Linked DNA regions of Homo sapiens. The protein of the gene in region 2 purifies or fractionates together with the protein of the main gene of each other region. This does not show direct contact. Each region holds a gene or a part of one and is shown on either strand. Other genes may lie near its edges.

Region 1 (3,748 bases), about 120 Mb from region 2:
CAACATGATGAAATCCTGTCTCTACTAAAAATACAAAAATTAGCCGGGTGTGGTGGTGGGCGCCTGTAACCCAGCTACTCGGGAGGCTGAGGCATGAGAATCATTTTAACCCGGGAGGTGGAGGTGGCAGTGAGCCAAGATTGCGCCACTGCACTCCAGCCTGGGCAATAGAGCGAGACTAAGTCTCAAAAAAAAAAAAAAAATATAAGGAATCATGGGAAAGACATTTTACATACCTCTGTAACTTCAGAATGTAGACAGTGACTACCAAACCGATTGTAATGCATAAGTTTGTTTGTTTGTTTTTGAGACAGGAGTCTCACTCTGTTGCCCAGGCTGGAGTGCAGTGGCATGATCTTGGCTCACTGCAACCTCTGCCTCCCGAGTTGAAGCGATTCTCCTGCCTCAGCCTCCTGAGTAGCTGGGATTACAGGCGCCCACCACCATGCCTGGCTAATTTTTGTATTTTTAGTAGAGATGGGGTTTCACCATGTTGGCCAGGCTGGTCTTGAACTCCTGACCTCAAGTGATCCGCCCACCTCAGCTTCCCAAATTGCTGGGATTACAGGCGTGAGCCACTGCACCCAGCCATGTAATAAGTTTCGGTGAGTGAGTGGAGTGAGGGCTCGTTGGAGGATGTGGATGGATAGATGGATGAATTAGAATTGTGGTTTGAGACCTTTTCTTCTTCTCTTTGTCTTCTTTCCCCTTTCTCATGCCTCCAGAATTAAAGATTGTAAAGAAAAATAAAGGGACATGTTTTTAAATATCTTAGCGATATCTTTGTTTTTTTTTTCAATGATGACACTCTTTGTGGCCCAGACCTTTTTAAACTCCCAAGGATTCAGATTTTGAAATTCCAGGTTTGCAAGATCATCTAGTACCTGCACTAGATTTTTAACTTAGGATACTCCAGGATATGCTTTAAATCTGTACCTTCTAATATGTAGCCACTGGCCACATGTGACTGTTGAGCACCTAAACTAGGACTAGTCCAAATTGAGGCATGCTGTAAGTGTGAAGTACACACCAGATCTTGAAGACTTAGTATGGAAAAAAAGAACGTAAAGTATCATTAATAATTTCTTTTTTTATTACATTTTAAAAGATAATATTTTGGATATATTAGATTAAATAACTTAAAATTAATTTTACCAATTTCTTTTTACTTTTTTATTATGGTTACTGGAATATTTAAAATTACATATGTGGCTTCTGTTATTCTATATTTCTACTATATTTCTATTCTATCAATATTTCTACTGAATATATAGAGCATTTTTCCCTTCCCTCTTCACTCTTTCTCCTACCCCCTTACGTTTTCGATCTAATCTCTTTAGATAGTAATATACCTAGTAATGTATCTTCCAAATTGCTTAGGGTGTGTGGTATAGTGCTGCTTTTGAAATGGAGCAGTTAAGTCCCAACCTGGGATCTCCAGACTCTTAACAGTACTTAAAAAAAAAAGAGAGGGACTAATAAAAAACATATTTGTCTATAAAGAAATGCACAGGCTATGTGAAAGGTAAGGTCATAATAAACCCAGCTGGAATTGTGTTAAATCTGTGCAGGATACTGATTGCCTGCTTCTGAACTGTGGGTATGGTTGGCTGTGGATAATGTAGAACATGTAAGAAATGATGGTCTGCTGCATGTACCAGGCCACATCTAAGAGTCTTATTGTTGAGCACAGCCACGTTTACACTGAATATAAACTTTATTCACCATTCCAGGCCTTGACCTTATATTCAGGAATGGCAGCCTGGCATGGTGAATAGAACTTATTAGGGTGCATCGTAGATTTGCTCAGTAGGGGCTCAGGAATTGACACAAATGCTGACGGAGTTGGAACAAGTAAATTATATGTCTGGAAGATAAATATTTAAATAATTAGATTAAGGGTGGAAATGATAAAAGTGTACTTTGTTATAAAGATTGGAGATCCCAGTAAGAGTAATATGCTCTATGAAAAATTGTAAGTTCTTATATTACATTATTAGTTTATGAGTACTTGTTACTGTTTTCACATTTTTGCTTATACTCATACAGTACTCCTACTTTGCTATACTCACACTGGTTTATCTCCCAAGCCTCAGGTAGATCATGCTTCCCTGACTCCCCCAGACAGGTTTTTCCTGTACCCTCAAAACATTTATCAGTGTTCTCATTTTATATTTATGTGTAATTTTACATTATGTTCACCTTTCTCATAAATTTTGCCAGATCAGGAACCGTGTCTTTGGCCACTGTTACATCCCCAGAACGTTGACTAGTGTTTTATGAGTAGAAGATGCTTTGTGAACATTTGTTTGGTTAATTAGGTACCAGTTTGGTAGCCAATATATGATACTAAAGGTTTATATTGTGAACGTGGAACTGTATTGAAACGTTAATGTTATTGCTGCCATCCCCAGGGCAATAGTCTGACCTTGATTGACCTTCCCGGCCATGAGAGTTTGAGGCTTCAGTTCTTAGAGCGGTTTAAGTCTTCAGCCAGGTAAGAAGGAAAGAAGTGAAGTGGGCTTGTCTAGGTCTGTATCTGTATATCAAAGCCACTCATGTGATTTGCTCTGGTGGTGTTTGGGAGGCAGCATGGTATCCTGTGGTAGACCTTGAGGTGACCTTGGGGTCAGCCAGTTCTGGGTTGCAAGTCCACCTTCACCTGGATGATGAGGATTTTATGGGATTAAAATGCTTAAAAAGTGTTTTTTAGTGTTTAGGAAATGTTAACCCTTCTTGTCATTGTTACTAAATGTTTGCATTTATTCTGAAGGTGAATTTAATAATGTATATGACTATTAAAATCTGAAAAAAGAATTTTAAAGCTGGGATGAATCCTAGCAGTTTTTAAATGCCAACATCATTTATATATATAGTGTTTTTTTGTTTTTTTTTTTTGAGATGGAGTCTCACTCTGTTGTCCTGGCTGGAGTGCAGTGGTGTGATCTCGGCTCACTGCAACCTCCACCTCCTGGGTTCAAGTGATTCTCCTGCCTCAGCCTCCTGAGTAGCTGGGATTACAGGCACGCACCACCACACCCTGCTAATTTTTCATAATTTTAGTAGAGATGGGGTTTCACCATGTTGGCCAGGCTTGTCTCGAACTCCTGACCTCATGATCCGCTGGCCTCAGCCTCCCAAAGTGCTGGAATTACAGGCGTGAGCCACTGCACCTGGCCCATATATATTCTCAAATTACGTAAAATTGATGTTTCAAGAAGTACAGAACAATATTTCCATATTTCTTTTAGTGTGTGCTCTGGTGTTACTGACTCTTAAGTTCTTCCCTAAAAAGTCTTATGCTGCAGTTTCAGATGCTTCTTTTTTGGTCTCTAACATTAATAAGAACTGAAGAGGAAAATCAGTATGCCACATTTCACTGATTTGAAGACACATTTTAATATCTCTGAATTTAGAATATATCTTATAGTTGATGGTGTCATAGTTTAATTGGCAGTATTTTCTCTTAGCGGTCCCTAAAATAATGTCTTTAATTGGCAGCATTTTAGTTTTGATGGAATGAAGTAGTAGATTCTTTGCCTTTTATTGAAGATGTCTAGACTGAAATTTCATTATTGCATCTTTGCCCACAAGATGGTGGTGATGAACAATTTGTCACAGATAAGAAAATTCCTTGGACAATTGAGACAAATCTAGAGCTGGTAAATTTTGCCATAATTGGGTTTTTATTTCCAATTAAATGTTTTTTCTTTTTCTATTGCCAGTTCTAAATATTTTATGATTTGCA
Region 2 (3,748 bases):
AGACCACCTAGAGGGGTGGCCAGTGGAATCCCCCCAACTACACCCCTAAGAGGGGTAGAGTTCCCATCTGCACCCGCAAGATGAAGCAGAGATGAGGCTGCTTTGGAAGCCCCCAGTCTTGGGCTATTGGTGTGGGGTCGAGAGCCTCCCTGAGGGGTGTCCTGGGCTGCTCTGTCAGAACCCCAGCAGGGAGCCTTGCCTGGCCTCTGACTCACACCCTTGCCCCAGTGGAGGCCAAGGCCTTGAATGACCACCCGGCCCTTGACATCGTAGCTTCGCAGCATCCTCCCTGCGTTGAGGCCACCCTGCGGGCTAAGGGGCAGGTGGGCACCCTTCCATGGGGCTGGGGGCTGAGGAGCAAGGAGGTCTCAGCATGGCCTACTGGTGGGAGACCCACCTCAGGCGCTCCCAACTGTCTCCCTCCCGTGGCCCCTCTGCACGGCCGGGTTCTGATTTTGGTGCAGTGCAGACTTTCAGCTTAACGAGACAAATTGGTATTCTGTGCCAGCCCAGGGATGGAGCGGCAGCTCGGGACGCTCGGGCGGGCAGCTCAGAGGTGGGCAGGAGGTGGGGGCAGGGGAAAGAGGCAGCTTCTGCCTGGAACTGCCTCCCGGGGCCGCCTCCAGCCCTGCCCCTGTCCCCCATGCACCCCTCCACCCTGACAGGTGCCCTGAGACACTGGTCCTGAAGGTCCTTCCACCTTCAGTGCCCTCCCTCCAAGCAGGGTACCCCTCCTGGAGGGGGCAGGGCAGTGGAGGCCAAGGCTTCAGAATTCTAGAGAAGCCCCTCGCCCCCGGTGACCTCCTAACCTTGCTCTTAGGGCTCTCCTCCCACCCATCTGGAGTTGAAAGAGCAGCAAGTCTGGCAGAGATTAGGCAGGAAGAGGTGAGCAGCTGGCTAGGGGCTTCCAACCCTACCGACTCCTCACCCGGGGTCCCTGGGTTCCCGTGGAAGTGTCAGTCAGCCCACAGTCGGCCTGCAACTCATCATAGATGTCCTGAAGATTAGGTGGGTGTACAGACATGCAGACACCCCTGCTGGTGGGCACCTTCTTGAGGCAGGCCCTTCTGCCAAGCCAGCCCCCACCACCACACCCCCCCGAGGGCAGGTGGGGTCGCACACAGGCAGGGCGGGTCGCAGGGGTAGCGCTTCAGGGCAGCAGAGAGCTGCTGCGGGCTCAGCTCCACTGGCCCTGGAAACACAGATGTGTTTAAAATGTGTTGAGTCGACTTCTCCCCATTTGCGACCTTTGCCCCTTTGCCCCCCAGGTCTGGGGGTGCCTTGACTGCAAAGAGGGGGGCCAGAGCCCCTGACCAAATAAGTCCCCCAGAAAGCAAGGGACGACTTGGGGCCATTTGAGCAAAATCCTCCCCTCTCTGCTCCCGTTCTCCCCACCACCACTCTCAGGACCCCCTTCCCTCCAGCACAGCCCAGCCCTACCCTCTCCGTGCCCTTGACATTCCCTCCTGCTTCTGGGGAGCGGGCATATTCCTGGGACTCTGCCAGCTTCGGTTCCTCATGATCCCACGGGAGGAATTAAAACCGCAAACAACAGCGTGGTGGTTCGGTCCACACACCCCCCCCGCCCCCCACTCTCCTCCCCCGTGCCCCCTCCAGAACCGGCCCTCCCTGTGTCCCTCCCTCCCTCCCTCCTCCCGCCCCCATCCCCCAGCCTCCGGCAGCGGCAGGGGCGGCCTCTGCCTCCCCCGAGATTGCATTTTGCCGGCGAGATGCTCTCCTAGAACCGGCGCCGGCGCCTCCGCCCCCCGCCCCCCACCCGCTCGGGCAGGATGGTACAGTCTGCAGAGGGGCCCGGGCACGCTGGCTGGGCTCAGCCGCGGCACCAGCTGCCGCACCGCGATTACGGGGCTGCCCGCCGGGAAACCGTGCAGGATTGGTGGTGATTTTCATAGCCAAGTAAGTACCGGCATCCCCCAGCATGAGAAAATAAAAAATAAAAAGCGCCCCACTCCACTCTCCCCTTCCTCCCTCACCCATTTTATTTTGTTTCATTTCATTTGATTTTTCTCAGTGCTGATGGTGGTGGCGGTGGCAGCGTGGAGGGGGGGTGGGAGCAGGGCTTGTTTATCTGGCAGCAGCCGAGGCTGCACTGGGAGCCGCCGCTGAGGGAGACACTAGTGTGAGGGTCCGCGTGTTGTGGGGGACGGCTGGATGCTGGGGACTAGGACAGGGGGGCCTCGGACAAGCGGATGCCCAGGGTCTCAGGTAGATTCCGGCAGCCTCTGGACTGCAAATGCCCCCTAAGGATGTTATGCAAGGGCCAGCAAGCTGGTGGCAGGGGACAAGGTTCTCTTCTCTCTGAGCCGGTCCCAGGGAGACCAAGAGGACTGGAGGGTGCCCGTTGCCCACCCTGGTCAGAGTCCCAGGAAAGAGGCAGGAGGAGGCCCCTGTGAAGCGTCCCTTTGGTGGGGTGGGCAGCTGTGTGCTGGGACTCATTGGGTCAGGCCAGCCGGGTCATGTGGTGGCAGGGACGTGTTCCTGGGTCCCCTCCATGGCCAGGAGGGTGGCAGGAACGGGTGGCCAGGCCATTTTGCAGCAGTCATGCTGGGTGGTGGAGTCGGCACCCTCTGCCCAGAAGCCCACTTCCTAGGCCAGCCTCAGTGGTCTCCAGCTGAGGGATAGGGCACCTGAGGCTCCTCCCTGCCCCCTGCAGGGTCAGGATGGGAAAATGCAGCAGGGGGCCTCAGGACTCCCTGAGGGTGGGTTGCGGACAGCAGCAACCCCTTTCTAGCCAAGTAGCTATTCCACACCACGGCTGTCCTCTGCTCACCCAGGTTGGGGGTTGGGGGTTGGGGGGGTGCTCTGGACTGGCCTGCCCCAATCAGGCAAGGGCCCTGGGGGTCTCGGGCCCTCCATGCAGAGGCCCAGCCTGGCTCGACCTTCAGAAGGGTAAGTGAGCAGGCAAGCCCGACCAGCCGGCAGAGGGTCTTAGTGCGACGCTGCATGCCCTGAGCCCAGCGTGGAAGGGGCTCCCTCCTCTCCTGCATTGCTCTCCGAATCGCTGGGAGGAGGCAGAGCTGACGTTTGGGGTATTTCCAGGATCAGCGGGCGCCATCCGGAGAAATTCTCCTTTGACGTGTGCAGTAGGAGGGGGCTTGGAGCGCAGGCCTTGGGGGCCTCCGCCTGTTAACTTCGTTGAAGGAGCAGTGGCAAAGAAGGGGCTGCAGCTCTGGGGAGTCCTGTGGGGGGTTGGGGGTCCAGGAAAGATGCTGATGGCCACCATTATTTAGCCACCTTCACACCCTAGTCCCATTCACATCAGGGCATATGCATGCCCACAAATTCACACATATGCACAGATACAAATATAGTACCCATAAGTAGTGCGTCATATATGTCCAAATCATATATACACATATGGAATGCCCATGCCCACACCCCAGCACCTGTAAATACAACCCACGTTCCTGAACACCACATGCTCACGTGCAAAACACAGCACACACACGAATGCAGTACACACATACACACCTGTGCATGCAGCTTGCCCACACATGCATGTAGCACTAACACGGGAAAGCAGTAGGCTGCACACAGTGCCCTGCAACAGCCAGAAATGTGTGTACCCACCTGAGGGCTGGCTCAGGTGTGAAAACAACAGGCACACACATGTGGGGCTCTGAATGCCATCTGCGTGCCTGCCCGTGCATTGGCAGGCACATGGCATGCTGGAATGTGCCCACAGGTGAATGTCAGTTGCACACATAAGAAGACGGCCACAGGCACA

What was found. The genes of interacting proteins can lie anywhere in the genome.
Region 1: the proteins of ATP2B2 (region 2) and SRPRB purify together in Homo sapiens (affinity purification with mass spectrometry; 3 studies listed by BioGRID and IntAct, with this or other methods). This does not show direct contact.

The regions. Positions count from the first base shown.
Region 1 is NC_000003.12:133,808,703-133,812,450, forward strand, and holds part of SRPRB (signal recognition particle receptor subunit beta), read left to right. Parts: intron 1-2,414; coding exon 2,415-2,497; intron 2,498-3,748. UniProt on the Homo sapiens protein: Component of the signal recognition particle (SRP) complex receptor (SR). Ensures, in conjunction with the SRP complex, the correct targeting of the nascent secretory proteins to the endoplasmic reticulum membrane system.
Region 2 is NC_000003.12:10,503,634-10,507,381, reverse strand, and holds the start of ATP2B2 (plasma membrane calcium-transporting ATPase 2), read left to right. Parts: upstream 1-1,795; 5' UTR 1,796-1,917; intron 1,918-3,748. UniProt on the Homo sapiens protein: ATP-driven Ca(2+) ion pump involved in the maintenance of basal intracellular Ca(2+) levels in specialized cells of cerebellar circuit and vestibular and cochlear systems.